2 separate regions of the Homo sapiens genome follow, and region 2 is linked to region 1. Evidence: fine-mapped expression QTL. Tissue or cell type: lymphoblastoid cells. Region 1 holds a variant in brackets; the other region holds the start of a gene. All regions are shown on one strand. Distances are between the middles of the regions.

What was found. PIP is the estimated chance that this variant, and not a neighbour inherited with it, causes the effect.
Region 2: KIF2A starts here. The variant in region 1 is fine-mapped to the expression of KIF2A in lymphoblastoid cells (GTEx, PIP 0.98).

What each region holds. Positions count from the first base shown.
Region 1 is chr5:62,284,479-62,287,389 of GRCh38, reverse strand. No RefSeq gene overlaps it. Among named protein-coding and RNA genes, the nearest start is that of KIF2A, 20 kb to the left of the region's middle. RefSeq lists enhancers at 1,644-1,923, 2,034-2,133. The variant C/T (reference allele first, on the strand shown) is at 1,786.
Region 2 is chr5:62,304,861-62,307,771 of GRCh38, reverse strand. KIF2A (kinesin family member 2A) reads right to left here and starts at 1,566. Exons shown (of 21, transcript NM_001098511.3): 1 at 1,236-1,566. The coding sequence starts at 1,299. RefSeq lists a silencer at 833-1,862.

The DNA.
Region 1 (2,911 bases):
AAGTTCACTAGAAGGGAAGGCAGGGATTGCCTTATAGGTCTGGTCTCCCTCTGACTCTGTCCGGTCCTGTCCTCTGTGGTTGAATTTGGCCAAGATGGTGAGTTAGGTTTCCTCTGGATACTTCTCAGAGTCACCCTGCCCCCACACCTACTTCCCTCTGCTAAGGACCTTGTCCAGCCTCCATTCCTGACACCCTCTCTGAAAGGATATCACTTCTGTTAGATGGCAGCTGCCTGCACAGCCTTATACCTTCTGGTTTGTCTCCTGTCCTCCAGGCTCTTTCAATATTTTATTTTCTGCACATACGTGCCCATACTCACAACTGAATCTACAAGTAGGCAGATCTCAAAGGAAGGAGAAAAAATGGGTCAAGCCACACATGCCTCGATCATTTCCTCCAAATTCACCTACCAGTTGCCTCTGTCCTCTGTGGAAAGTAGTGAATGAGGAGGAAAAAGGAGAACTGAAGTGTTGCTCTAACAGAGGTCTCACAGCATGAAAATATCAAATGTAGAGAAAAAATGTTCCTGAGTAACAATCCATATGTAACGTATGTGTGTCTACTATGCATCTTGCCTGAAATAGCATACAGGCATATTGAACTTAAAATCCATCATACTGAACTCATCACTTAAAAAATACATTCCAACCTCAGAATCTGTGTTTCTGTCTACATTTTCTATTTTATAATTTATCTAATTACTCAAATAAAAATTTGGGGATTCATCTTGGATTCTCCTCCTCCCTTCACCCTTCCTAAATATTACTTCTCTCCATAATCTTCTTGCTATTTCTACTGCCTTAATTAAGGCTGCCATTACTTCTCATTTGGATTATTACACCAAAAAAAAATCTCCTAATATATCTCTCTATATCCAGATTTACCTTCCTGAAATCCATTTTGTTAAACTGCATCTAAAGTTATCTTTTGGAAATTCAGATCTTATCAGGTGACACTCCTGCTTAAAACTCTCCAGGGGCTCCCCATTGTTCTATGATGTTTATCAAAGTGTGATCTTAGATTGCCTTTGACCAGAATCATTTGGATGACATATTAAAAATACAGTTTTCTAGGCCATATCACAGATTTAATGAATCAGAGTCTCTGGAGATGCATTTTTAACTTTTATTTCTAGAAAGGAATTATTATGCACAAAAAATTTTTGTAAATGTTTACTCATAAGATTAAGTTGAAACTCCTTTTTAGGGTATATAACACATTTCAGCATTTGGTTTATATTACCTCTTTAATTTTTCATCTTACCACTACCTCTGCAATTTGTGTTCTAGGAAAAACATGTTTCCTCATGAATCATTTCACACTTCTTTGTCTTTTAATCTGCTTGTTTCTTAGCTTGATGCATTTTTCTCACCCAATTCTCTTCCATCTGATGAAAACCTATTTATCTTTCAAAATCTTATTAGAATTTCATATATGTGAAAGGACAAGTGGACAAGGACAGATGGAAACCCATGTTTATTCTTATTGCCTCTGGCCTTTGTGATGAGGATATCCTGTAAAAGTGAGGGCTCCTCAGCCCAGCGACCTGGCGGGGGTGGGAGGAGCTGAGGGAAAATCCAGGGGAAGTTAGAGCAACTGCAGGCACAAGCCCTGCTACTGCTTCACACCAATGAAGTGAGTCAGCAGATCAGCAATAATGTAGGTGTGAGCTACAAAATGGCCACCGTTTCCCTACCACCCTCCAAATTTCTCAAGAATCTTCCTTGTGACCCACTCTAACTAGAAGCATACCAGAAAATGAATTCTAGGAAATGTTCCACCTA[C/T]GCAGGTTGACACATTACAAAACTACCACACACTGGATAATCTATTTTAGGCAGGGTGGTCAGATCTCATTGGTGATATGACTTTTTTTTTTTCTTTTTTGAGACAGAGTCTCTGTCACGTAGGCTGGAGTTCAGTGGCATGGTCACAGCTCATTACTGCCTAGACTTCTAGGGCTTAAGTGATCTTCCTGCCTCAGCCTCTGAAAGTGCTGGGATTACAGGTGTGAACCACTGTGTGCAGCCAGTGAGATGACATTTGCACACCAACTAAAGTGAAGGATTGGGCCAAGAGAAAAAAAGGAGAGATGACCAGGACATACAAAGGCCTTGAGGCAATGGCATCTGGATGGAGGACTCTGAAGAAGGGTCAAATACCCAAAGAAAAAGCAAGATCCAGCAGAGTCTCAGGAATAGTTAGAATGAAGGACCCCAACACCCTAATGGCTTTCTCTCTGCCATTCTGTTTCTCTCTGTGTCAACTTCATTCTCTTTCACTTTAGACTGGCTTTCTCCACCTGGTGGAAACATGGTCACAGGAAGCATCGAAGTTTGACATCTTATATGTGTAGCTATCAAAGAAACTATCTTTATGTTCTCTGTGATAGCCCATCAAAAAATTTGGGGGAAATTACTCATTGCCCTAACAGGTTATTTGCCCATTCTTGGAAAAATTAGTTCCAAAGGGCTATGATATTAATTACCTGTTCTTGTGTAATAAATTATGCCCAAACTTAGCAGCTTTAAACAACAATAAACATTTGTTATATTACACAGTTTTTGTGCAAAATGAATTTAGGAACAGCTTAGCTGGATGGTTCTGTCTTGAAGGGGGTGTCTCAAATGAAGTTGCAGTTCAGATGTCAGCTGGAGCTGCAGTCATCTAAAGGATTAACTAGGCTGGAGGATCCATTTCCAACTATACTCACTCACAATTCTGGTAAGTTAATGAAGGTTGTTTCCAAGAGACCTCAGTTCCATGCCATGTGACACTTCCATATGGTTGCTTGAGGACTCTCGTGACATGGCATCTGGCTTTCCCTAGAGTGAATGACCCAAAGGAGCAAGGTGGAAACTATAGCATCTTCTATGACTTAGACATTGAAGTCATACTCTGTTTTTCCTTAAT
Region 2 (2,911 bases), 20 kb before region 1:
GGTGACAACGCCTGTAATCCCAGCTACTCAGGAGGCTGAGGCACAAGAATAGCTTCAACACGGGAGGCGGAGGTTGCAGTGGGCCGAGATCGCACCACTGCACTCCAGCCTGGGTGAAAATCCGTCTCAAAAAAAAAAAAAAAGGAATCGGTATGAGAGATGGAGTCAGGAACACTGCTCAACTCGAGATTATCACACATCTCTCGTTCTTTCAATATTGGTACCGAAAGAAAATAATTTTACTTATCTCCCTCCGTGCATTTATTCCTTTACAATATGAATTATTTCCAGTCTGGCTGGCGTATCTCACTCCACACCCCAAGCTAGTGTCATAAACCATTTTCCCCAAGAGAAACCTAGAGAAAGATACATAAGCCTAAGGCTCTTAAAAAAAAAAATGAAGCATGTGTCTTCACCTCGCCTTACACTTTTCTCAGTTACCTCTCCCGAGGGTGTGAAAATATCAACATCCGGTCGCCCACCCCCACTCTCTCAGCAGTGCCTCGCATTGACTCTGCCCATCCCCTATCATTCCCTTTACAGTCTCATCACCTTGGAGAAGCCCATCGAATATTTCTTCCCATTGCTCCCCCACCCTTATTCATGGCTCAGCGCGATATTCTCCACATTTTTCTCCCAAGAAGTGGCAAAAAAGAAAGCAGCATGGTCGACGACGAAACCGGGGAGGCCTGACAACCAGACGGCAGTTTAAGGCGACGGAACTGGCTCTTTCCCCCCATCTCGGCCTCCGACCAGCAGTCGGTTCTCTAAATGTGAAATCGCTGGTCTTCCCGCTCCCCCACCCCCATCCCCATCCCCGTCAGAGGCCAAGCCGGTAAAATGCAAAGACCAAGGGGAAGCGCGAGGCAGGGTCATCCCTAACGAAGCCCGCTCCCTCCCGGGCTGGTGTCCCCGGGGGGGGGCTGGAGATTGCGGGAGGAGGAGCGAGCGGCCCTCGCCCAGAGACCCCCGGAGACGCGACCCTCGACACCCGGGCCCTTTCCCCACCCGGCTTCCCTCCCCCGCGGCCCGATCCGGAGAACTGCAGCAGCGCCCGGGCGGACCCCAAGCCGGCCTCACTGGCACACACGCCACACACAAAAGCGCCGCGGCCGCCGCCTTCCCACCCCCACAGCCCGGCGAAGCAATCAATGAGGCGGCCGGCGCCCGCGTCCCCTCCGTGCACACCCGAACACGGGGCCGAGCGGGCCAGCGGGGCTGGCAGCGCGGCTCACCATCGCTGCGCTTGATCTCCACGTAAATCCCGATCTGGATCTTGCCGAAGTTGGCCGTTGCCATCACCTCATCTGGAGCAGCAGCAGCGGGCCGAGGGAGGGGGACCGGAGGGCGGAAAAGGCGGGGAGGGGGCGGGGTAGGTGTGGGAGGGGGAGCGGTTGCCCGCGGCCGCGCCGGCCCGGGCGACAGCGTGAACGCAAGCGGGGCCGCAAGGAGCAGCTGTGGGGAAGCAGGCGGAGGCCCCGGGCCTGCAGGCCGGCAGGAGGACGCGCACGCCGGGTAGTCGGGGTGAAGCTAGGGCCGGGGCCGTGAGACGGCGCGGGGTAGAGTGGGAGGGCCCGCACCGCCCGCCGGGGAGCCGACGCTGGGGAGGCGGGGCGCCGCGCGCCTGCGCAGAGCGCGCCTCCGGCGTCTCTTCTTCCTTTTCGGCTGGCCTCTCCCCGCTGCCTCCAGGCGGCCCCGCCCAGCTCTGCAGCGGGGTGGGCGGCGGCCGCGGCTTACCCAGCCGCTGGAGCGTTGAGCGCTCGGCCCGGCCCACAGCTAGCCGGCGTCGCGTTTGATTTCAGCGCGCGGCCTAGAAGACGCGGGAAGCGTCGCGCCGAGCTTTCTTGCCCTCTCGCTTCCGGGAATTGGCGCTGTTGCCGGAATGGGTTAAAGGCCACGTGGTTTCAGGGGCTTTCTAGCGGGCTGAGGGATGTGAATTCAAGGGCCCTCCGTTGACAGTACGGGATCCGGGTTTTCATCGGAAGGTGGCACCCCCTATTTCCACTTACAGGTAGCTGACCCAAGCAGCCCTCCCAAGCACACTTGGTGTAGGTTTCCCATCCAGTTACGCTGGAAGGGAAGAAACACCCTTGAGGTGTCACCTACCCTAAATCGAAATGAAGATCCACCCCTTTACAGTCTTGCCTTATAGTTTATCACACTCAGAAAGAAGCTCTGTGGTGGGGCGTCCTTAACTGTTCAGGTTATGAGGCATCCGATGCTGGTGCCCTGTTTCTGCTGAGGGTTCAAGACTTACTTGCCTTGGCCTGTAAAGCCAACAACTGTGACTCAAGGGAAGAAGGCAGACACATAAGGTTGACTAGGGAATGTGTCTTTTTGCAATAATTTAATTAGTCTGACCACATCAGCAATGTGGAAAGCAAGACTCTCCATCCTGGCAGAGCAGGAAGGCCACGTGTACCGGGGCCCTGGAAACTGTATTTATAGCACCGTGTGAAAACCTCCAAACGTCTAACTCCTGCTTGTAGTACTGGCAATTGATAGGTTGGAAACAACACTTTTCATGGCCTACTTTCCCTAGTCATTGTTTTTTGTTGTTGTTGTTTTGTTTTGTTTGTTTTTGAGGGGGAGTCTTGCTCTGTCGCTCAGGCTGGAGTGCAGTGGCGCGATCTCCGCTCACTGCAATCTCTGCCTCCTGTGTTCAAGCGATTCTCACGCCTCAGCCTTCCGAGTAGGTGGGATTACAGGCCCGCGCCACCACGCCTGGCTAATTTTTGTATTTTTAGTAGAGACGGGGTTTCACCATGTTGGCCAGGCTGGTCTCAAACTCCTGACCTCAGGTAATCCACCCGCCTCCACCACCCAGAGTGCTGAGATTACAGGCATGAGCCACTGCGCCCGGCCTTCCCTAGTCATTGATAATCTCCCTGTAACAATAACTACAAATATA